7 linked regions of the Homo sapiens genome follow. The protein of the gene in region 4 interacts with the protein of the main gene of each other region in a pairwise test. Each region holds a gene or a part of one and is shown on either strand. Other genes may lie near its edges.

The links.
Region 1: the proteins of BAG4 (region 4) and KCTD7 interact in binary tests that used the Homo sapiens proteins (3 or more experiments, as listed by UniProt).
Region 2: the proteins of BAG4 (region 4) and SAMD4A interact in binary tests that used the Homo sapiens proteins (3 or more experiments, as listed by UniProt).
Region 3: the proteins of BAG4 (region 4) and RUNX1 interact in binary tests that used the Homo sapiens proteins (3 or more experiments, as listed by UniProt).
Region 5: the proteins of BAG4 (region 4) and FYN interact in binary tests that used the Homo sapiens proteins (3 or more experiments, as listed by UniProt).
Region 6: the proteins of BAG4 (region 4) and ATOSB interact in binary tests that used the Homo sapiens proteins (3 or more experiments, as listed by UniProt).
Region 7: the proteins of BAG4 (region 4) and ZBTB5 interact in binary tests that used the Homo sapiens proteins (3 or more experiments, as listed by UniProt).

The regions. Positions count from the first base shown.
Region 1 is NC_000007.14:66,635,381-66,638,880, forward strand, and holds part of KCTD7 (BTB/POZ domain-containing protein KCTD7), read left to right. Parts: intron 1-2,872; coding exon 2,873-3,051; intron 3,052-3,475; coding exon 3,476-3,500. UniProt on the Homo sapiens protein: May be involved in the control of excitability of cortical neurons.
Region 2 is NC_000014.9:54,699,628-54,703,127, forward strand, and holds part of SAMD4A (protein Smaug homolog 1), read left to right. Parts: intron 1-2,434; coding exon 2,435-2,953; intron 2,954-3,500. UniProt on the Homo sapiens protein: Acts as a translational repressor of SRE-containing messengers.
Region 3 is NC_000021.9:34,790,803-34,794,302, reverse strand, and holds part of RUNX1 (runt-related transcription factor 1), read left to right. Parts: intron 1-1,692; coding exon 1,693-2,168; 3' UTR 2,169-3,500.
Region 4 is NC_000008.11:38,186,855-38,190,354, forward strand, and holds part of BAG4 (BAG family molecular chaperone regulator 4), read left to right. Parts: intron 1-3,500. UniProt on the Homo sapiens protein: Inhibits the chaperone activity of HSP70/HSC70 by promoting substrate release. Prevents constitutive TNFRSF1A signaling. Negative regulator of PRKN translocation to damaged mitochondria.
Region 5 is NC_000006.12:111,663,953-111,667,452, reverse strand, and holds part of FYN (tyrosine-protein kinase Fyn), read left to right. Parts: intron 1-3,500. UniProt on the Homo sapiens protein: Non-receptor tyrosine-protein kinase that plays a role in many biological processes including regulation of cell growth and survival, cell adhesion, integrin-mediated signaling, cytoskeletal remodeling, cell motility, immune response and axon guidance.
Region 6 is NC_000009.12:35,109,363-35,112,862, reverse strand, and holds part of ATOSB (atos homolog protein B), read left to right. Parts: intron 1-470; exon of another isoform or gene 471-533; intron 534-1,206; exon of another isoform or gene 1,207-1,296; intron 1,297-1,410; exon of another isoform or gene 1,411-1,594; intron 1,595-1,647; exon of another isoform or gene 1,648-3,203; intron 3,204-3,232; exon of another isoform or gene 3,233-3,500. UniProt on the Homo sapiens protein: Transcription regulator that may syncronize transcriptional and translational programs.
Region 7 is NC_000009.12:37,441,451-37,444,950, reverse strand, and holds part of ZBTB5 (zinc finger and BTB domain-containing protein 5), read left to right. Parts: intron 1-2,395; 5' UTR 2,396-2,399; coding exon 2,400-3,500. UniProt on the Homo sapiens protein: May be involved in transcriptional regulation.

The sequences.
Region 1 (3,500 bases), on a different chromosome or scaffold from region 4:
TTACATGTAAACAATTTAAAGACTTTATGTCTCAGGGGTTCCATGTTTGTGAAATGAGAAATAATTATAGCTGCTGCACAGGCTTGTCAAAGAGGATTATATAAAGAGCCTTGGTGTGACCCCTAGCCATGTCCTTTTCAGAGTACGTGGCTGGAACTCTTAGCTCCTTCAGTCTGACATTGGAGATGACTAGAGACCTTGAACCAAGTGCCCAGGAGGCAGAAACTCTCCAACCACTACATCTCTGTGCTGGCCTCCAAGAAGGATTGCCCACATTGTGGGAAAGATCATTTTTATTCTCAGAAAGGAGCCCCTGGTCAAATAACTTGCTTGGAAGCATCTGGGTTTCCCCAGTGGGCTATCAGCTGCCTCCAATGCTGAGAAAACAAAGTGTCACATCGCTCTGCAGAACTATAAAAAGATGTTTGTTTGCGGGCTGTTTGGGGAAGGAAAGTGCCGGCCCCAGCTAGCAGCTCCCACAGCACCCTTAGCTGGGCCTTGCCCCAGGGTTTTGTTTTTCAGAGCTCACCAAGGTTTGCTGAAGATCTAGAAGGGATTTTGGGGAGGGGTTCTGGGTTTGACTTGAGGTGGATGTGCCCATGCTCAGGTGGCCACAGCTAGAGAGTGACAGCGCCAGGCAAGGGCATGGCAGAAAGCAGGAGATGGCGACATTCTTACTTTGGCTGATGAGCTCCTGTGACCTATGATTCATCAGCAGCAGATGAAGTTGTTGAATGACTCAGATAAAATAGGCGGTTCAGGGCATTTCGTAGGGTGCATTTCTTACTATACAGCTTATGTATCCCTAGCGTCCACCGTGAAGGCTGCTTGGGCCTCAGTCTGGGGTCGTTCCCCATTGTCATCAGCTTGCTGCACTCTGGTCTAAATGTTTCTGCTGAAGCTGGACCATGGTAGATGTGGGTGTAGAATCAGCCATGGCTGGATCTGAGCCTCTGGCAGCGGTGGCTACTTGAGCAAGCATGTTCCTGAACCTGTCTGGGCCCCACTTGAGCCTCATTTATGACATAGAGATAAGATAGCACACACCCCCAATGTCATTGAGAGGATTACATGGGATAACCCATGAATAGTGGCTGGCATGGAGTAATACTTAGCGAGTGTTAGCTGGTGTTGTATTAGGTCATAGACTAAGCTGTTATTGAGGTAGCAGCATTATCTTGGGGTTTACTCACTGTCTTCCGCACGTACGGGTGATGTATCTGATTACTCTGAGCACTAAATAATCTAAAAAGCTGGTGGCTTGCACCTATGGTCCCAGTTATTCGGGAGGCTGAGGCAAGAGGACTGCTTGAGCCCAGGAGTTAGAGGCTGCAGTGAGCTATGATTGCACCACTGCCCTCCAGCCTGGGTGACAGAACAAGATCCTATCTCTTAAAAAAGAAGAAAAAAAATCTGAAAAGTGAATTAGAAGGACTGAATTTTTATTTTAAGAAAATGCAATATGTGATTTTATTCAGCCCTGAAACCAGTTTGTTCAGACATTAGAGTTAGGCATTTTACCTGCTCTGCATAGCTACAGAATAATACTAGTGGCAAGGATGGGGAACACCTAGAACTCTTCTGCATTGCTGTTGGGAATGTAAAATGCTGCAACCACTTTGTTAACCACGTGCTTACCCTATGACTGAATGACTCTACTGCTAATACTTAAAAGAAATTTGTGCTTGTGTCCACTAAAGGTTTCTTTTGTTTGTTTGTTTTTGTGATGGAGTCTCACACTGTCACCCAGACTGGAGTGCAGTGGCGTGATCTTAGCTCACTGCAACCTCCACTTCCCAGGTTGAAGCAGTTCCCCTGCCTCAGCCTCCAGAGTAGCTGGGATTACAGACACCCACCACCATACCTGGCTAATTTTTGTATTTTTAGTAGAGATGGAGTTTCACCGTTTTGGCCAGGCTGGTCTTAAACTCCTGAGCTCAGATGATCCACCCACCTCGGCCTCCCAAAGTGCTGGGATCACACGTGTGAGCCACCGTGCCTGGCCTAAAGGTCTTATATAGGAATGTTCATCCCAGCTTTACTCATAATAGCCAAAAACTGGAAACAACCCAAATGTCCATCAACAAGACAACAGGGTAAATAAATTACACCATATTCATGCAAGGGTATACTTACATAATGAATAATAACTAATAAAAACAAAAAAACAAACTACTGGTTTGTTTTTATTATTTATTTGGTGGATACATTTCAAAAACATTATGTTAAAGGAAAGAAGCCAGGTATGAAAGAGAACATACTATATAATTCTGTTTATATATATATTTCAAGAAAAGGCAAAACTCATCTTTACTGATGGAAGGAGAAGTTAGAGTGGTTGCTTCCGTAGGGATTAACTGGGAAGTGGCATGAGGAACCTTAAGGAATGGAAATGTTTCATCTTGATCTAGGTGATGGTTGGATGGGTATATTCATACTTAAAAAAACAACTGAACTGTACAGTTAATATTTGTACATTTATTGAATATTTCACCTCAATTCTAAAACTATATATATATAAAGGGCTAGGTGTCATATCTTTCCATTATACTTACATATACCTAATAATACCTAATATTATACCTAATAATAGTAATTATAGTTGCTTACTGATAACAACAACTAATAACACTTATTGAGGCCCTACTCTGTGCCAGGGATTTTCTAATCACTTAATTCCCTAACACATTATGAGGTTTTATTGTTTTCTCCAATTTTACAGACAGGGAAACTGAGACATGGAGTAGTTAAGTTCATTTACCCAGTGTAACACAGCTGGCAGTCTGGTTTTAGATTTTGTCCAATGCACACTGTGTGGCACTGCCCAGGAGCATAAGCTCCTTGTCACCGACCCTCTTTCCTTCCTGCTTAGAGATGTGCTGAATTTCCTGCGCTCAGGGGACCTCCCACCCAGGGAGCGTGTTCGAGCTGTGTACAAAGAGGCCCAGTACTATGCCATCGGGCCCCTCCTGGAGCAGCTGGAGAACATGCAGCCACTGAAGGGCGAGAAGGTGCGCCAAGCGTTTCTGGGACTCATGCCCTATTACAAAGGTGAGGGTCAGCTGCCCAGGATGGTGGGTATGTGGGAGGAGGTCTGCAAGGCATCTGTGAGTGTTTAGGTCTCCATCAGAACACCGGGGGCAGCATTCATCCAGATTACTCAAGATGCGATGGAGTGTCATCCCTTCCCAGTCACGCTGGGGAGATTCAGGTTAAGGTGGGCCTACCTGGCCTATGACAGTTAGCAAATTGTATTTCAGAAGGACAGCCCTCGTCCCATTGGCTTCCCTTTGCTGTGGAGAACCGTGACCCTTGTTTAAGTTTGTGCCCTTCATTGGCCCCCTGAGTCCCTTCCCCGGGAAATCTGTCTTTCCCCTCCTGCATCCTGCCATCTTCAGGACTGTTTCTCTGTGCATCTCTGCTGCCCTGTCCTGCCTCTTCACCCTAGTGATAGGTGTTGTGTTCATCCTTATAGACCACTTGGAGCGGATTGTGGAGAT
Region 2 (3,500 bases), on a different chromosome or scaffold from region 4:
TGATAATTTGATTATTTAAATAAAATATATCATTAAAATGTACATTACCTGTTTATTCTGTCTCTTCTTTAATATGGCTACTAGAAAGTTTAGAATACCATATATGGCTTATATTTTATTACTGTTGGACAGTGCTCCTCAAGATCGTCTCACTCTGTTACTGAATAACATTCAGACCCCAGGGCAGAGATTCTAAAGCCTTCCTTGGTGATTCTGAGTCTTTCATTATTCTGGCAATTCTGTTCTTCTCCACGTCCTATCTTAATCTCTCCTGCTTCGGTTTGGAGACTTCTACAAGTAGTTGACTCTTTGGCATCTCCTTATGAAATCCCACTTGAAGTGAGTCAAGCATCTCTTCATATTGTTGTAAGCACAGTAAACCCATTTTCTTTTCACCTTTTGACTTTCTACCTCCTTGATCATTTTTAGTGACTTCTCTTGGGTCATCTCTGGTTTCTCTATATTTTGTTTTTTAAAACTTGGCATCCCAAACCACCCACATTGCTCTAACATGATTCCAGCTATGCAGAGACAAGCTGAAGGAATTACCTCCATCATCAAGTACTTGACCAGCCCTTTTGCTACTTTACGTTATTTAATCCCACAGCACATGGAGGGGCAGATGCTATTTGGGGCTCAGAGAAGGTATTTGGGGCTCAGAGAAGTTAAGTAACTTACCAAGGTTCTACCACAAATTAAATGGCATGTCTGGGATTTGTGTCCAGCTTTGCCTGACTCCAAAGCTCATGCTCTTTCATTATATACCATGCCTCTTTTTTTGCTGGTATTTTTCTTGAAATATTCTTTCCCATAGTCTTGAGAAGCATTGCAGCACAGGCTGATGCATTTGTAGCTTATGGTCAACAGTGATAACTGGGCTTGTTTTGTTATGTTTGCACCTAGCTGGAATTGCTAAGCCCTTCTGCTAAATTCCAGAAACCCCTTCCAACCTTCTAGATATGGCATAAAAACCAGCAGGACTGTCCAGCCCTAGCCCTTGTAGGGTCATCAGTGGGCCAGTGTTGAGATCTCCAGGTGTCAGGAATGACTTCCCTGAAAATGAGCTTTCTTTCCTCTGGCCCAGAGCCTGTGAATAACTGTCAATCCCAAGACAGGCTATTTCTCAAAGGCTAATCAGTGAGAGGGGATGGAAAGGATCCTTCTGAGTGTGTTAAAAACAGATCTTCCCAGAGCTTGAAACTTGAGGACATTATGCTCAGTGAAGTAAGGCAGTCACAAAAGGACAAACACTGTATGATTCTACTTCTCTGTGGTACCTAGAGTAGTTAGAGTTTCAGTTTGAGAAGATGAAAGGGTTCTAGAGATGGATGGTAGTGATAGTTGCACACCACTGTGAAACGGTGAATTTTTTTTTTTTTTTTTTTTTTGAGACCAGGTCTCCTCTGTCACCCAAGCCCCAGGGTACAGTGGTGCAATCACAGCTCACTGCAGCCTCGACCTCTGAAGCTCAAGCAATCCTCCCACCTCAGCGTCTGGAGTAGCTGGATCTACAGGCATATACCATCACACATGGCTATTTCTTTTTTAATTATCTGTAGAGATGAGGTCTCATTATGTTGCCTAAGTTGGTCTCTAACTCCTGGGCTCAAGCCATCCTCCTGGCTCAGCCTCCCAAAGTGCTGGGATTATAGGCATAAGCCACCACCCCCAGCCTGTGAATGTTCCTAATGCCACTGAACATCCACTTAAATATGATTAAAATGATCAATGTTATGTGTATTTTACCACAATAAAAACAAGCTGATCTCTACATAAAGCAAAACAGCAATTAGAGGTGTCTCAGGAGCCAAGTCTTCGGTCCATTGCATATTCTAGCTTTGAGCCCATAGTCACTCTGAGTTAGCTTCTCATGAGAAAGGTGCAGTCTTACTGCACAGAGATGAGGGGAGCTCTTTTTTTCCCTGACAAATTTCTCCATCTAGGAAGTTTTTCCAATTTCACACAAATGCCTTTACCAGGATTTAAATCACTTTCAACAGATGTCTGGGGGAGGTGAAGCAGCCTCACCCCCAGGACTCTGGAATGGGACCTTTGTTCATACTCACTTTTCTATGGAGAGCTTCTTAGTCTTAGCCCCCTGTCTATCAGGGGGTAGGCTAGACCTTTCTCAGAAAGAAAACAGAGCTGCACATTGTATTTGATTGTACCAAAGTAGTTGTAGCTTTTTTGGAAACACGAATGAGAATTTGATTGAGTACTCAATATCTAAGAATGTTTGATCTGTGTTTCATTGGAGCCTCTGGCCCTTGAAAACCTGGGGTCAGTTAACCAATCTGATTCACAGGCTCTTTTGAGAAAATATAGCCAGACTATGTAGATTGGGACCCTAATCCATAAAAATTCTCTTTAGAGTATCTGTTTAGAGTCACTGTGGGTGTATTTGCTTATTTGCCGTGTATATTTCCCTTTTCAGGAATCATTAACCAATGGCAACAGGAATCCAAGGATAAAGTGATTTCCCTCCTGTTAACTCATCTGCCTTTGCTGAAGCCAGGAAACCTCGACGCGAAAGTAGAATATATGAAACTGCTGCCCAAAATCCTGGCTCACTCTATTGAACACAACCAGCACATTGAGGAGAGCAGGCAGCTGCTGTCCTATGCTTTGATACATCCAGCCACTTCGTTAGAAGACCGTAGTGCTTTAGCCATGTGGCTGAATCACTTGGAGGACCGCACGTCGACCAGCTTTGGTGGCCAGAACCGAGGCCGCTCAGACTCTGTGGATTATGGACAGACACACTACTATCACCAAAGACAGAACTCTGATGACAAGCTCAATGGGTGGCAGAACTCTCGGGATTCTGGGATTTGCATCAATGCCTCCAACTGGCAGGACAAAAGCATGGGGTGTGAGAATGGCCATGTGCCCCTCTACTCCTCCTCATCTGTCCCCACCACAATCAATACGATTGGAACCAGCACAAGTACAAGTAAGTTCCCCGGAATCCCTTTAACGTAGTCTGGTTTGGCGATTTGCTGTGTATGTGGCATGTCCTGCTGACAGTGTCTGCTCCATGCACCCTGTGACCCTGGGAGAGAAGGACTGATTGGAATTGGCTGTGGGAAAGGTCCTTTGGACCCCATATTTGTTGCTCTTTGACTCTGCAAAGATGAAAATACTTGGGAAGGTAAAAGTGACTGATGGTCCAAATTTGGGTTATAAACAGACCAAAAATAAATAGACAATAAATGAAAGAAGGAAACTTGCCGTTTCCACAATCAGAAATGCATTTCACCCATGTCTTTCACCCTGGGGTTTTGGATTTGCTGAGACACTGAGTTACTGTGTGATTCTCTAAACCTAATTCTAACCCATGGTTAACCAGGCAGCCTCATGGGCTTTGTGCTTTCTCTTTATTTTTTTTTTCCTCTTTCTTTCTCTTTATTTATTTATTTTTTCTTAAATTTCACCCTGGAATGTTTCCTCCCTTTGCATTTTCTGGTTTTAATCCCCAATTGTTGGGGCACTTTTTTCCT
Region 3 (3,500 bases), on a different chromosome or scaffold from region 4:
ATACTAGGAAATTATCAATTTTTCAACTGTCGAAGGCCTATAAAAATGGCAATTTTCTATCATTCAACCTAAATACTATGTGTAATGTATTATTATATATTAATATTGTTAGGATATATATTATGTATAACATATTGTGTTAGTAGTAACATATTTGTGCATCCTTTACATTAGTGTCAAATTATCATCTGCTATATTAATATCACAGATTAATTTATATTATTGGTATATTAATATATTGATCAAATAGAGGGTCAGCAAACTTTTTTCTGTAAGGGGCCAGAGAATAAATATTTTAGGGCTGGGCACGGTGGTTCATGCCTGTAATCCCAGCACTTTGGGAGGCTGAGGCAGGTGGATCACTTGAGGTCAGGAATTCGAGACCTGCCTAGCCAACGTGGTGAAATCTCATCTCCACTAAAAATACAAAAATTGGCCAGGCCTGGTGGCGGGCGCCTGTAATCCCAGCTACTCGGGAGGCTGAGGCAGTAGAATTGCTTGAGCCCAGGAGGTGGTGGGTGCAGTGAGCCGAGATCACACCACTGCACTCCAGCCTTGGTGACAGAGCGAGACTTTGTCTCCAAAAAAAAAAAAAAGAATAAATATTTGCTCTGTGGCTCCTGCAGTCCCTATACTGACCACCTGACTTTACAGTAGTGGCTCTAAAGCAACCACAGGCAGTACATGAAAGAATGAGTGAGGATGTGTTCCGAAGTATGGATGGACACTGAAGTTTGAATTTCCTGTCATTTTAACAGGTCAGGAAGTATTCTTTTTTGGATTTTTTTTTCAACCATTTAAAAAATGTAAAATGCATTCTTACCTCCTGGGACATGCAAAAATGCCAGATTTGGCTGGCAGGCTGCAGTTTGCCAACCCTAGGATTATATCAACATTTTATATACGTTATACATATTATAGTATATACTATTGCACATTATATCTATACTATACATATTATGCTATACTACATCATTTCATATATCATGTCATATTACATTACATGATATTCTATATTACCGTATTATATTACTGTATATTATACCATCCTCCTGGGCAGTAGCAGCCTCCTGATCCCCGTCCTCCTGGGCATAGCATCCTGGGTGACCTCATCTTTTTGGGTGGCAGATTCTGGGTAGAAACCCTCTCCCTAGGCAGCAGCATCCTCAGTAGCCCCCATCCTCCCAGGTGGTAGCAATCCTGTGTGGTTCCAATCTTCCTGGGCGGTAAATTCTGATAGAAACCCATCTCCCTGGACAGTAGCATCCTGGGTGTCCCCCGTCCTCCTAGGCGGTAGCATCCTGGGTGGTCTCCATCCTCCCAGGTGGTGTCATCCTGGGTGGTCTCCGTCCTCTCAGGAGGTGGCATCCTGAGTGGTCCCCGACCTCCTGGGCATAGCATCATGGGTAGTCCCCATCCTCTTGGGAGGTGACATGCTGGGTGATCCTCGTCATCTCAGGAGGTGGCATCCTGGGTGGTCCCTGTCCCCCTGGGTATAGCATCCTGGGTAATCCTCGTCCTCTTGGGAGTAGCATCCCGGGTGGTCCCCGTCCTCCCCAGCAGTAGCATCCTGGGTGGCTTCCCATCCTCCTAGGCGGTATCATCCTGGGTAGCCCCCTGGGGCAGAGGGAAGAGCTGTGGCCTCCGCAACCTCCTACTCACTTCCGCTCCGTTCTCTTGCCCGCCCTGCAGCGGCACCCGACCTGACAGCGTTCAGCGACCCGCGCCAGTTCCCCGCGCTGCCCTCCATCTCCGACCCCCGCATGCACTATCCAGGCGCCTTCACCTACTCCCCGACGCCGGTCACCTCGGGCATCGGCATCGGCATGTCGGCCATGGGCTCGGCCACGCGCTACCACACCTACCTGCCGCCGCCCTACCCCGGCTCGTCGCAAGCGCAGGGAGGCCCGTTCCAAGCCAGCTCGCCCTCCTACCACCTGTACTACGGCGCCTCGGCCGGCTCCTACCAGTTCTCCATGGTGGGCGGCGAGCGCTCGCCGCCGCGCATCCTGCCGCCCTGCACCAACGCCTCCACCGGCTCCGCGCTGCTCAACCCCAGCCTCCCGAACCAGAGCGACGTGGTGGAGGCCGAGGGCAGCCACAGCAACTCCCCCACCAACATGGCGCCCTCCGCGCGCCTGGAGGAGGCCGTGTGGAGGCCCTACTGAGGCGCCAGGCCTGGCCCGGCTGGGCCCCGCGGGCCGCCGCCTTCGCCTCCGGGCGCGCGGGCCTCCTGTTCGCGACAAGCCCGCCGGGATCCCGGGCCCTGGGCCCGGCCACCGTCCTGGGGCCGAGGGCGCCCGACGGCCAGGATCTCGCTGTAGGTCAGGCCCGCGCAGCCTCCTGCGCCCAGAAGCCCACGCCGCCGCCGTCTGCTGGCGCCCCGGCCCTCGCGGAGGTGTCCGAGGCGACGCACCTCGAGGGTGTCCGCCGGCCCCAGCACCCAGGGGACGCGCTGGAAAGCAAACAGGAAGATTCCCGGAGGGAAACTGTGAATGCTTCTGATTTAGCAATGCTGTGAATAAAAAGAAAGATTTTATACCCTTGACTTAACTTTTTAACCAAGTTGTTTATTCCAAAGAGTGTGGAATTTTGGTTGGGGTGGGGGGAGAGGAGGGATGCAACTCGCCCTGTTTGGCATCTAATTCTTATTTTTAATTTTTCCGCACCTTATCAATTGCAAAATGCGTATTTGCATTTGGGTGGTTTTTATTTTTATATACGTTTATATAAATATATATAAATTGAGCTTGCTTCTTTCTTGCTTTGACCATGGAAAGAAATATGATTCCCTTTTCTTTAAGTTTTATTTAACTTTTCTTTTGGACTTTTGGGTAGTTGTTTTTTTTTGTTTTGTTTTGTTTTTTTGAGAAACAGCTACAGCTTTGGGTCATTTTTAACTACTGTATTCCCACAAGGAATCCCCAGATATTTATGTATCTTGATGTTCAGACATTTATGTGTTGATAATTTTTTAATTATTTAAATGTACTTATATTAAGAAAAATATCAAGTACTACATTTTCTTTTGTTCTTGATAGTAGCCAAAGTTAAATGTATCACATTGAAGAAGGCTAGAAAAAAAGAATGAGTAATGTGATCGCTTGGTTATCCAGAAGTATTGTTTACATTAAACTCCCTTTCATGTTAATCAAACAAGTGAGTAGCTCACGCAGCAACGTTTTTAATAGGATTTTTAGACACTGAGGGTCACTCCAAGGATCAGAAGTATGGAATTTTCTGCCAGGCTCAACAAGGGTCTCATATCTAACTTCCTCCTTAAAACAGAGAAGGTCAATCTAGTTCCAGAGGGTTGAGGCAGGTGCCAATAATTACATCTTTGGAGAGGATTTGATTTCTGCCCAGGGATTTGCTCACCCCAAGGTCATCTGATAATTTCACAGATGCTGTGTAACAGAACACAGCCAAAGTAAACTGTGTAGGGGAGCCACATTTACATAGGAACCAAATCAATGAATTTAGGGGTTACGATTATAGCA
Region 4 (3,500 bases):
GTGCCTTCTAATGAGCAATATCACATACTTCATACTTGAAGTTTGAGGGCAAACAGACTTTGCAAAAATAATCCAGCTGGTTACTAAACAAATGAGCAAATGACAATAACAAGCCTAAGGTGGAAAAGGTGGGACCAGTAGTACTCAGAGTTGCTAAAATGTCTAGTTTCCAACAAAGAATTATGAGCTATGCAAAGACACAGGAAAGTATGACCCATACACTGGAAAAAAAGCAGGTAACAGAAACTGATTGTGAAAGTGACCAGATGTCACATTTAATAGACAAAGACTTCAAAGTAGCCATTATATATGTTCAAATAACTAAAAAACTATGATTAAAGAAGCAAAGAAAGGTGTGTGATAATGTCATGTCAAATAGGGAATATCAATAAAGAGATAGCAATTATATATTAAAAAAGAAACAAATAGAAATTCTGGAGTTGAAAAGTACAGTAACTAAAATGAAAAATTAACTAGAGGAGTTCAATAGGCTAGAACTGACAGAAGAAAGAATTCATGAATTTGAAGATAGATCAATACAGATTATGCAATATGAAGGAGAGAAAAAAGACTGATGTGTTGGAGAAGTGTCAGACACCATTGAACACACCAGCATATCAGAAATGATTAATAACAAGGTTAATATAACAAAAGATGCAAATATGCTCTTTTCTTCTCAGATTCTTTAAAAGACATTATATAAAGTAATAAGTATAACAATATAATGTTGAGTTTGTAACATTTGTAGACATAATGTGGATTACAATAAAATCACAAAAAAGGGGAAAAGGAACAGACTTATATAGGAATAGCATTCCTGTATCTCACTGGAATTAAGTTGGTATAAATCAGAAGCTGATTCTGATGAGAAGCATATTGTTAGCCCAGCTGGGTGCTGTGGCTCACGCCTGTAATCCCAGCAATTTGGGAGGCCAAGGTGGGCAGATCACAAGGTCAGGAGATCGAGACCATTCTGGCTAACATGGTGAAACCTTGTCTGTACTAAAAATACAAAAAAAAAAAAAAAAAAAAATTAGCCGGGCGTGGTGGCGGGCGCCTGTAGTCCCAGCTACTTGGGAGGCTGAGGCAGGAGAATGGCATGAACCCGGGAGGCGGAGCTTGCAGTGAGCCGAGATCGTGCCACTGCACTCCAGCCTGGGTGATAGAGTGAGACTCCGTCTCAAAAAAAAAAAAAAAAAAAAAAGGAAGAAGAAGAAGTGTATTGTTAGCCCAAGAGTAACTGCTAAAGAAAAAAAAAGTATAATCATTAAGTTATAATGCTACATTTGAAAATATTCACTTAATGCAAAAGAAAGCAGTAAAGGTGGAATAAAGGACAAAAACACATGAGACATATAAAAAACAAAAAGTAAAAATAAAACATGTAAATCCAGCTATATCAATAATATTAAATGTGCATGGATTAAGCAATCTAGTCAGAAGACAGACTGGATTAAAAAAAAAACAAGATCCAATTATATGGTGTCTAAAGGTGGCACACTTAAGGTTTAAAGATACAAATAGTTTGAAAGTAAATGGATGGAAAAAGAAATATAATGCAATAAAGAAAAGATAAATGTTTGAGGTGTCAGATATGCCAGTTACCCTGTTTTGATCATTACACTTTATATACATGTATCAAAATATCACATGTATCCCAAAAATATGTACTACTTTTATTAATTAAAAATTACATATATGCACATATAAATACATATATATACGTGTATACACATATATATATGCATGTATACATATATATACATGTACACATATATATACATATATACATGTATACATATATACATGTATACATATACATGTATACATATATACATGTATACATATATATGTATATATATATAAAAATATGCAAAAGGCAACTATGAGAAAGCTGGAGTGGCTACTTTAATATCAGCTTTTTATTTACTTTTTATTTATTTATTTGTTTATCTTTGAGATGGAGCCTTGCTCTGTCACCCAGGCTGGAGTGCAGTGGCACGATCTTGGCTCACTGCAACCTCCGCCTCCCAGGTTCAAGCAATTTTCCTGCCTCAACCTCCCAAGTAGCTAGGACTACGGGTGTGTGCCACCATGCCCGGCTAATTTTTTTTTTTTTTTTGAGATGGAGTCTCACCCTGTTGCCCAGGCTGGAGTGCAGTGGTGCAATCTCAGTTCACTACACCTCTGCTTCCTGGGTTCAAGCAATTCTCGTGCCTCAGCCTCCTGAGTAGCTGCCCGCCACCACACCCAGCTCATTTTTGTATTTTATTAGAGACGAGGTTTCACCATGTGGGCCCGGCCGGTCTTGAACTCCTGACCTCAAGTGACCCACCCACCTCGGCCTCCCAAAGTGTTGGGATTACAGACGTAAGCCACCATGCCAGGCCTGAATTATATACTTTAAATAGGTGAATTGGATGGTAGTGAGTAAAACTTGAAAATAAGAATACCAGTTTTATGAGTAACAACTAATGGATGCAGTTTCGGTTTCTTTGCAGTTCAGCTTGTCCTTAGAGAATAAATTCCACTGAGGACGTACAGTCAAAATAACGTGAGCTAAAAGTCATTTGAAGTAATTCTTTTTTCTCTGTGGTTATGTTACCAACTTGATTGTTAGTTATTGCATTAATTGACTTTTCCTATACTGAAACAACAATTCCAGAATTTTAGTAGCTTATAATGATAAACATTTATTTCTTGCTCAGGTTCTGTGAGTCCACTCTAGTGGTTCTTCTCTAGGCCCCAGGTTCAGTTCAGGTCTACCTGTGTGTCTTCTCATCCTGGGACTTCAGTTGAAAACACAGCTCCCATATAAGATAATGTAGGTCTTGTGGAGGGCATGGGAACACAAGAGGGTTGCTAGAATTTGCAGCGACTCCTAAATCCTTTGTGTGGACTGGCACACTGTCACTTTTATCCATATTTGTTTGTTTTGCATAAAAGGTTAAATTACGTTTTGTTGTTGTTGTTGTTGTTTTGAGACGGAGTCTCCCTCTGTTGCCCAGGCTGGAGTGCAGTGGCGTGATCTAGGCTTGCTGCAAGCTCCGCCTCCCAGGTAGCTGGGACTACAGGCGCCCGCCACCACACCTGGCTAATTTTTTGTATTTTTAGTAGAGATGGGGTTTCACCGTGTTAGCTAGGATGGTCTCTATCTCCTGACCTCGTGATCCACCTGCCTTGGCCTCCCAAAGTGCTGGGATTACAGGTGTGAGCCGCTGCACCCAGCCAAATTATGTTTTTTACTTATGTGAGTTTGTAATGACACCACCACATTCACTATCCCCCAGTTCTTCCTCATTTTGCCCCATTCCATATTTTATCTTTCCTTGTCCTCGTGACAATATCGGTTCCCAATAACACTACTGTATGTATTTATTCTATTCTACAATACACACAATATAGTTTAAAAATTAAGATAGTAATATCACTACTAATAACATTATATGAAGAGTTTAAGATATTTTTAAATTTCTTTTGCTTTTAGAAAGGTACCACTA
Region 5 (3,500 bases), on a different chromosome or scaffold from region 4:
GCAAGATGCTATCTCTACAAAAAAAAAATAAATAAAAATAAAAATCAGCCAGGCATGGTGGTGCATACCTATAGTCCTAGCTGCTTGGGAGACTGAAGTGTGAGGAGGATCGCTTGAGCCCAGGAGTTCAAGGCTGCAGTGAGCCATGATCATGCCACTGCACTCCAGGCTGGGTGACAGAGCAAGACCTTGTCCCTTAAAAAATTTTTTTTCAAAGAATCTAAAAGGAAAAAGGGAAGACTACTGAGTTCATGTACAGCTCAAAGAAGTGGAATAGGGAAGTTTAAAAGAAAAGGGAAAAGAAAACACACACACAAGAATAGACACTGTTGGCAACCCTACAGAGTCAGAGTTTGAAAGTGAGAGTTGGAAACTTGACCTCTGAGTTTGCTGGAGGAAGCCAGCAACATGATTTAGAAAGGATAATATAATCATAATGGCAGGAAGTGAGCACAGTCTTCTTGGCTGGAGAATCTCAGTTGCAGTGTTTGGGGCAGACTGACTGGAAATGATGCTATGTCGGGGACCATGTTTGAAAGCCTAAAATCTGAGTTGACAAGGAGATGTTCCATGGAGGCTCTGGGAAAGAGGGACTCGAAGGCAGACCCCCACACAGCGGACTAGTAAGGTCTCGCTCTGTCACCCAGGCTGGAGTGCAGTGGCACCATTTCAGCTCACTACAGCCTCAACCTCCTGGGCTCAAGCAATCTTTCCACCTCAGCCTCCTGAACAGCTGGGACCACAGGTACATGCCACCATGCCCAGGTAATTTTTGTACTTTTTGTACAGACAGGGTTTTAACATGTTGCCCACGCTGGTCTCGAACTCCTGAGCTCAAGCGGTCTGCCTGCCTCAGCTTCCCGAAGTGCTGGAGGTGTTTTATGGATTGAGTACTGTTCAGTTGTACCCTATGAAAGTGACCCACCACAATGGCCTGTTTTCCTGAGCAATTCTAGAGAGACAGCAGAAGGGGCTGGTGGCTCCCGTGAGGCTAGAAGGGCAGAACAGCAGAGGAGGAGAGGGTTGGAACAAAATTGGGCAGTGGCCTCTGTGCTTGCTGGCTCCCCAGCCCCAAGCCGCCTCTCTGTGGGAACCAGGGAACATTCATACTGCTCGAACGTGGCTCTTCCCACAGTCAGACACCACTGGCCAGCCAGGATCTCCCCTCCTGTTGAAAAATGCTCTCCCTTGCAGCTCCCACTAGGAAACCTGGAAGGCCAAACTGTTTATGACATTGTTTCCCTAAAATGTGCTCAGACACCATGTTTTATAAAGTTTCTGTCTCTTCTTTCTGTTAAGAAAGGAGAAAAAGGATCCCAGCTACTCAGGAGGCTGAGGCATGAGAATTGCTTGAACCAGGGAGGTGGAGGTTGCAGTGAGCCGAGATTGTGCCACTGCACTCCAGCCTGGGCAACAGAGCGAGACTCTGTCTCAAAAAAAAAAAAAAAAAAAAAAAAGGAGAAAAAGGAAAAACATTTCCAGCACTCTTGTCCACCTCCTCAGTTGGAAGTGTAATAAAAAGATTCTTCTGGCTGGGCATGGTGGCTCACACCTGTAATCCCAGCACTTTGGGAGGCCGAGGTGGGCAGATCACTTGAAGCCAAGAATTCAAGACCAGCCTGGCCAACATAGTGAAACCCTGTCTCTACTAAAAATATAAAAAATTAGCCAGGTGTAGTGGCATGCACCTGTAGTCCCAGCTACTCAGGAGGCTGAGACAGGAGAATTGCTTGAACCTGGGAGGTGGAGGCTGCAGTGAGCCGAGATCACACCACTGCACTCCACCCCAGATGACAGAGCCACGCTTCATCTCAAAAAAAAATAAATAAATAAAAAATAAAAGGATTCCTCTCTCTAGTGTACCCATGTCTCTCAAGACACTCTCCCAACTGCCCTGGTGCCCAAACTCGTGTTTATTCCCTTCCTATTCACTATCCTTCACCTCTCAGGTATTAGGTAAAGCCAATGTCTTGGGGAAAAGTGGCTAAAAAGAGGAAATGACAGTTTTCTTTCTAACAAAAATATGAAACCATCTAAGAAGAAAAAAATGAAGTAGACCTATCTTTTTGTTAGTGTGCAGAGTAAAAGCCATTTAAAAAAAATTATTTAAAAAAACCATGATTTTCAAAATTCATATAGCTGAGAATACTGTATTTTAAATACAGGTTAAGTATCCCTAATCCAAAAATATGAAATTCAAAATGCACCAAAATCTGGAGCTTCTTGAGCACTGACATAACACGCAAAGGGAATGCTCAACTTACTGGTTGAGCAGCCCTATAATGCAAATATTTCAAAATCCTAAAAAATCTGAAATTTAAAACACTCCTGATCATAAGCATTTCAGAGAAGGGATACTCACCCTGAATTAACACAATCCATTCAATTTAGCTATTGTTTATAAAATAAAAACTAGCCCAAGCCTTGCTGAGTGGGCATATCTTGATTGCCACCGTTATTGTTGCAGAGGTACATTGTGAAGTTGCCAGGTCTGCAGGTCAGCCCGTTGCAGGTCCTGGTTTATGGATGGTTGGAAAAGAGCTAGTCCCATTCCAATTGTCATTGTCAGCCAAGTGCATTGTCAAAATATCCCACTTTCCTGGCAAAGCCCTCATTGGTATGTTTCCACTTGGCCCAGTGCGTGGAATTGTTTTCATATACTCCCCTTGCTTTGAGAGGTCTGGGCAGAAGAAAGCAGGAGAAGAAGAGGAGTGGGGAAGAGCGGAGGGGTGCAGACAGGAAAGGGGAGAGCGAGAAGGAGCCTGACCATGTGGGTCTGCCAGGACCCTGCATGGGCCAGCTTATGCCCTGTCCCCTGGCTCCAAATGCCCAGGAAAGACTGCCTCGGGAGACGCTACATGTTGAGGTTCACATCACCAAGTGTGCTGTGTCTGAGGCTTGGACCGAGCACTGGAAAAATGACCCAGTGGCCAATTAAACTTTCCATTGGCAGACATTGGATGAAAACTTTTTTTTTAAGTGAAATCTTTCCATTTGAGTAGTTTGTTTTTTAATGAAATGAAACATGTACTGACATGCGCTCTGTGGAGCAATAGGAGAGTGATTAATTAAACTCTGTGCTGCCATTTTGGAGGGAGGCACTCAGAGCCAGAGTCAAGCATTAGGAGGCGTTTCAGGGGCTGTAACCGCACCCAGAAGGATCTGTCAGGCCCTTCTGCCTGTTTCCCCTCAGTTCCTGTGGACTCCTGGAAGGGACAGAGACAAGGGAGATTTCTGCTGGTCCAAGCTCTGTCATTGCTGAAATATGAAACCAAGGACAGTACTAAAAGATGCGGCAAGGCAAATGCTTTGGAGAGTGCCAGTTCTGCTACGTGATTACACACTCTTCCTAATCTTTCTGGGCAATATGTATGAAGAAATAAAAACAGTAAATAGCCTCGTAATCAGTTCAGGTTTTGTGGCCAGATGAGGTCAGTTCAGATCAGTTCTGTAGTCAAGTGAGTTACAAAAACTTGATGGTGTTCAGAGCTCGTTGGATG
Region 6 (3,500 bases), on a different chromosome or scaffold from region 4:
TGATATAACCTCAGGGCCCTGGGGGGTCCACAGCACAGGCAAGGCAGAAACAAGGACCTTGGGCTCTCTGTGGCCTCTGAACTGTAGAAGAATGGACTTTCCCTCTTTGGCTCTGGTGTTTGCCTCCTGCTTCTGTGAAGGACCGGGAGAAAAAGCCTCCTAAGTCCCAAATTATCCGACTTGCTGACAAGTGCAGAGGGCAGGGTAGACAGGACTATTGCTTTTCTTAGTTTACCTCTAGAGTACCCTCTAGAAAGTGTCTTTGAATGCTCAATCCTTGCAAAGGTTTCCATCCTGGTCATTTAAAGAATAGGAGGACAAGGGTTAGGGATGCCGGTTCTGCTGCCATTTGATTTGACTGGGTCTGAACTGGGCTGGGGCCCAGTGACTCAGTGGGAGGGTGGATAGTTTTGAGGGAGCTGTGAGTCATGGGGTTGAGCTCCATCACAAGAGTTGGGCTCATTTCCCCCATTCTGGGCAGAAGCTCTCCTATCCCACTTCCCTGTATGCTCTGTCTCCTTGAACATGGGCCTGTGAGTAGAAAGAGTGCTGGCAGGCTGATCTCAGAAAGGGAGTTCAGAGGCACAAAGAATAATGCTGGTCCCTGAGATTAAAATGTATCCCTATCTTAGGAACCCGTGGGGCTCCTCTAAAGAAGGCAAAAGAACATCAATTTAAGAGTAACAGAGGGAAAAGTACCACTTCTTAACATGGAAGGAGATAGGGTCCCACCTCAGGCCTTTTTCTTCTCTGGCATGGAGGAAGCTTCCTGGGCTTCACTAGTTCTCCAGCTCTGAAGCTTTGGTTTGGAAGGTGGGGAAAGACAAATGGGAGTGAGGTATTTGGGGTCTGGGGTCTGGTATAGACAGCAGGCAGACTTTGAGGGTTGTCAAACCGTATCTTTAAAGCCCTCGGGCTTCCTATTAACCGTCCTGGAAGGAGGAAGGGCGGGGGAGTAGGGCGGAGGGGTAAGATGTGGAAGGCCTACGCCTTTGAAAGGGTTAAATGGCAGGGCAGGGTGTTGCTTTGGACTCCGGCAGCTGTCGGGTTAAGGAGAAGGGCGGAGCGACCTTGGGTAAGCCTACCCCCTTATGGACCAATAGGCGTGTGCCTCTTGGAGGGGGCGTGCCTCGCACTTGAGGTCGCGGGGAGGCTGGCTTCCTATGGACCAATGAGCATGGTCGCTTTCCAGGGAGGGCGTAGCCTGAGGGGGGCGTGGCGGCCGTGGCCGCCGCGGCGCGGGTGGTGGGGCACTGGGCGGGGCGGGCGGCCCCATCAGCTGGTAGGAAATGGCCTGTGAGTCAGAGGGGCAGTGGAGTCGGCGGCGCGGAGCCGGGGCGGCCCCGGGGAGGGACCGTCGCAGGGAGGGGCGCGGCAGCGGCTGGGGGGCTGCGGGCGCCAGGGCCCGCTAGTGTTGCACACGAAGCTGAACAGCGAAGAGCCTAGCAGAGCAGGGCTCAGCCTGAGCCACCCTTTGTCTGGGTTGGGGGCCCGTGGCAGGGAGGACCGGGGAACCAAGGGGAGGGACCGGGACGGGACGGGACGGAAGGGCCCGGAGCAGCGGCCACCTCCGCGGAGCCAATTTGGGAGCGGGGTGAGTGTGCTAGAGGGAAAGAGCAAATCTCCGAAGCTCCAGTATAGTATGGGGCCTGTCCCAGGCTGTGGGGAGGAGAGGAGTGAGAAGGGACCTGGGAGGCTGGGCAGGGGGTAAGGGATCGTCCAGAAGAAGGAGTCCAGGAGTCAGGTGAGTCTGCCTGGCTTAGTTTAGAGAGTCTGCTAAGGTCTGCTCTCTCCCCTCTGAAGATAGAGGGCTCTAGGCTGGGGGCCGAGGGGTTGGTAAGAGAGAAGAAGTCGACCTTCCTACCCACAGTGGTGGTCCGTGGGAACAGCCCCCCTAGCTTGTGTGGATGTATGTAGGGACAAAATAGAGAGCAGCTGGCAGCAGTTCTCTTTGCATAGGATGAGGGTGGAAAGCACATGGATAGGAATTCATCCTGTCACTCTCCTTGATCATGGTAGAAATGGAAATCTTTAATACTGAAGGGAAGGGGAGAATGAGCCTTGAAGCTGATACCTATACCAATACCCACCTCACCCACCTCCCAGGCCTCAAAAGTGTCTAAAGGTACAGACGTATTCTGGGACTTGTTGTTTTTGCTGGCCTTGCTCCCTCAGCATGTTGGGAGCTGTAGTCCTTGCCAGCCACAGCCTGGCACAGCTGTTTGATGCCAGCTGCTGCCCACCCCCTGAACGAAGAGTGAGGCTTGGCCTACTCTGCCCTGCCCCCCTCCCCTGCAGTCCTGCCCCATGAGTCAGCTTGAAGCCATGGTCTAGAGCCAGACTGGCTGGGTGGCAGGGGAGTGAATATAGAGCGTCTTGTTGACAGGGTGGGAACTGAGAGGGCTCTGGGGTTAATAAGCAGATGCCAGGTATGCTGGGGTCAAGTAGGGCATCATGTCATCCCCTGGCTTCCCCAGGGCAAGGGGTCAAGAGGGCAACTGGGATGACCTGGAAGTGGTGGTGCTAGGGAAAAGGCCCCTCCTGAATCTGTATGGCTTGGGTGGAGGAAAGAAGGGTAGAAATTAGTGCAGGTTGTACCTTCTGACAAGGTTGGTTGCAGGTAGGATAGTGCAGGTTGCGATTGGTGTTCTGCCCTTTCCAGCCATCCCGCCCACCACAGGGAACCAGGATTTTCTTAGGGATCCCAATTCTTAGGAGAATTTGGTGAAATGGGATAGTGGGGTACAATGATGGGAACTTGGTGTAGGAGAGCTTTTCAGTCCCTGGGTACAAATCTCTCCTTTCTGCCTGCTCCCCACCCCCACCTCTGTTCCTGATTTTCCCTTGTACAATTAATCTCTCTGCTTCTCTCATCTGGGAAATTTTTCTCTCCACTCTCAGGACTGCTGCTCAGATGTCTGGGACTTGCATTCTACTTTTTTTGAGCCCTGCTGTGTGCTTACCCCTGTACTTGGGGTTGGATGGAGGGGTGGGACACAGATCTGTCCTCAGGAACTCTATGGTCGGTCTAGAAGATGCCTTACCCACAGGAGTGAGCAGAACTGTTAGTGAGCTTACAGGAAGTAGTAACACTGCCATAGGTGAGGTCTCAGAGAAGGGAGAGATGCTTATGGTCTGGGGTGGACAGAGCAGACTTTCTGGAGGAGATGGCATTTGACCTATCCAAGGAGGAAAAGTCTTGGGTAGGCATTCAAAGGGCACTTCTTGAAGGGGAAAGAGCACCGTGAATGTCAGACAGCAAAAGAGAAGGCTGACCCTGGGGGCAGCTGGCTTTCAACTTGACATTCCCCTCACCCTAGTATGGGCTGGAATAGTTAGTGAAGACCATCTTATGCACCCGTGGTTTGGGGTTTTGGTGTTGGGTGTGTGAGCACTGGGGGAGGGGCGTGGAGAGGTACTCCCTAGTTGCTTCCAGCTGACTGACTGCTGCGGCCTTATCTCTAGTTTGCAGGGCCTTGCGGGAGGGCCCTGGAAAGTGC
Region 7 (3,500 bases), on a different chromosome or scaffold from region 4:
ACCCACTCCTTGGAGTCCTTCCTGCTCCAGTCTGACTGCTTTTGCTCTCCAGGCCTGCTGCCTAGTTGTCATCTGGAGCTTCATCATCATCCTTGGGATTCCCTTTGCCTGTCTTCTCTGGTGGGTCTCCTGTTTCCTACAATCTTAGTCGCCTCCTGAGAAAGGATAAACCTTTGGGTTCTTATCTGAAAATGCCTTAGTTTATCCTAATTGATTAATAGTTTAGCTGGGTGTGGCATTCTAAGTTGGAAATCATTTTCTTGGATAATTTTGAAGGAACTGTCATCTTCTAGCTTTTAGTGCTGCTGTGGCAAAGACGAATGCCAATTTTATTCCTGATGTCAGCCTAGTGTGGGGATTTGTATCTTCATATTTTGAGTACTTGTTGGGCCTTTTTAGTCTTAATAAGCAAATTTCTTCAGTTCTCAAAATTTAAAAAATACCATTTCTTGGCCGGGCGCAGTGGCTCATGCCTGTAATCCCAGCACTTTGGGATGCCAGGGTGGGCGGATCACCTGAGGTCAGGAGTTCAAAACCAGCCTGACCAACAAGGTAAAACCCCTGTCTCTACTAAAAATACAAAAATTAGCCGGGTGTGGTGGCGTGCACCTATAATCCCAGCTCGTCAGGAGGCTGAGGCAGGAGAATCACTTGAACCCGGGAGGCGGAGGTTGCAGTGAGCCGACATTGCGCCACTGTACTCCAGCCTGGGGGAACAGAGCGAAACTCTGTCTCAAAAACAAAACAAAAAACCATTTCTTACATCATTTTCACCCTCTGTATTCTTCCTTTTCTCTTTCTGTAGTCAAGATATTGGACCTGATTAATTCCTTCTCTTATTCATTCACTTATTTTTATTTTATTTTCTGAGACAGGGCCTTGCTCTGTTGCTTAGGCTGGAGTGCAGTGGCCCAGTGACAGTTCACAGAAGCCTTGACTTCCCAGGCTCAAGTGATCCTCCCACCTCAGCCTCCCAAGTAGCTGGGACCACAGGTGCACGCCACCATGCTCGGCTAATTTTTTTTTGAGACAGGTTTCACTCTGTCACCCAGGTTGGAGTGCAGCAGTGCGATCTCTGCTCACTGCAGCCTCTGCCTCCCAGGCTCAAGTGATCCTCCCCCTTCAGCCTCCTGAGTAGCTGAAGGCACATACCAGCATGCCCGGCTAATTTTTTGTATTTTTGGTAGAGACAGGGTTTCACCTTGTTGCCCAGGCTTGTCTCAAACTCCTAAGCTCAGGCAATCCTCCCACCTCAGCCTCCAAAAGTGCTATAGGATTACAGGCATGCGCCACCACATCCTGGTGTTTTTTTGTTTTTGTTTTTTTTAATTGGATAGATTTTCAGCCAGGCCTCCTGCCTTAGCCACACCTTCATTCCATTTCCCCTGGCAAGGGCAACCAGTTCCTTGGCCTTTGGGAATGAGATTTATATATGTTAGGTTGTTTTATCCGCTGCCCAGTTTAGGATTTTCGCTTTTGGGGTGTGCTGAGTCAGTTAGCACTCATTTACCTCTCCCCAGCTTCCAAAATGCTATTGAAGGCCTTCTCATTCTCTTTTTCCTTGTGGGTTTACACCTTTAAAGTTTAAACAAAAACTTTAGTGTTTTTTTTTTTTTTCCTTTGAGATGAAGTCTCACTCTGTCGCCCAGGCTGGGAGTGCAGTGGTGTGATCTCAGCTCACTGCAACCTCCGCCTCCTCAGCCTCCCGAGTACCTGGGATTACAAGCATGCACCACCATGCCTGGCTAATTTTTTGTATTTTTAGTAGAGACAGGGTTTCATCATGTTGGTCAGGCTCGTCTTGAACTCCTGACCTCAGGTGATCTGCCCGTCTCAGCCTCCCAAAGTGCTGGGATTACAGGCATGAGCCTCCATGCCGGGCTTCGTGTCATTTTAGTGGGGTTTCAGGAAAAAGCACGGGGCAAATGCGTGTGTGCAATCTGCTACCATCTATAACTGGAAATCTTCCACACTAATATTGATTTGCCCTTTTCACTTATTTAGGGTTCCTAAGACTTTGGAATTTCTTGGTATTCATTCCTCATCCTTAGGGAATGCAGAATTCTAACAAACTTCTGTGGGATAGATATGCCATCACTCACACACTGGTCTTTACTAATTTAGACCCTTAGTGTTATACATGGCTCATATGAAGAGTAAAGGGGAGCCTGTCGGTAGCTAGGCCCACATGTGTGCATGCCTCCTGGGCTGATGGCTGAATTGCCATTTGCTTCTTATATGACAAGCTCTTAGTGTATGTGCCCATTATCAGAGATATCACGGGCTTCAAAGGTCCAAGCTTGGCCATCCATTCCACTCTTTTCATCATACCCTTTGTGTTCTGACTTTGAAGCTTTTCTAGGTCTTAACATTTTCTTTCTTTGTTTTTCTGTAGGATCATGGATTTTCCTGGTCACTTTGAACAAATCTTCCAGCAGCTGAACTACCAGAGACTTCATGGCCAGCTCTGTGATTGTGTCATTGTAGTGGGGAATAGACACTTTAAAGCCCACCGCTCCGTGCTGGCAGCATGCAGCACGCATTTCCGAGCCCTGTTCTCAGTGGCAGAAGGAGATCAGACCATGAACATGATCCAGCTGGATAGCGAGGTGGTGACAGCAGAGGCCTTTGCTGCACTGATTGACATGATGTATACCTCCACCCTCATGCTGGGGGAGAGCAATGTAATGGATGTCTTATTGGCAGCCTCTCACCTGCATTTGAACTCTGTTGTTAAGGCATGTAAACATTACTTAACGACAAGGACGCTGCCCATGTCTCCCCCCAGTGAGCGCGTTCAGGAGCAGAGCGCCCGCATGCAGCGCTCCTTTATGCTACAGCAGCTGGGACTAAGCATCGTGAGCTCAGCCCTCAATTCCAGCCAGAATGGCGAGGAGCAGCCAGCCCCCATGAGCTCTTCCATGCGCAGTAACCTGGATCAGCGCACGCCCTTCCCCATGAGACGCCTTCATAAGCGCAAGCAGTCTGCAGAGGAGCGGGCCAGGCAGCGCCTCCGACCCTCCATAGATGAGTCTGCCATTTCAGATGTTACACCGGAGAATGGGCCTTCAGGGGTTCATTCTCGGGAGGAGTTCTTTTCACCAGATTCTCTGAAAATTGTGGATAATCCTAAAGCTGATGGAATGACTGATAACCAGGAAGATAGTGCGATCATGTTTGATCAGTCTTTTGGCACTCAAGAAGATGCCCAGGTGCCCAGCCAGTCTGATAACAGTGCTGGCAACATGGCACAGTTGTCCATGGCCTCTCGTGCAACTCAGGTTGAGACTAGTTTTGATCAGGAAGCTGCACCTGAGAAAAGTAGTTTTCAGTGTGAAAACCCTGAGGTTGGCCTTGGTGAGAAGGAGCACATGAGAGTGGTGGTTAAATCTGAGCCCCTGAGCTCACCTGAGCCTCAGGATGAAGTGAGCGATGTGACCTCACAAGCAGAAGGCAGCGAGTCTGTGGAAGTGGAAGGAGTTGTGGTCAGTGCCGAGAAG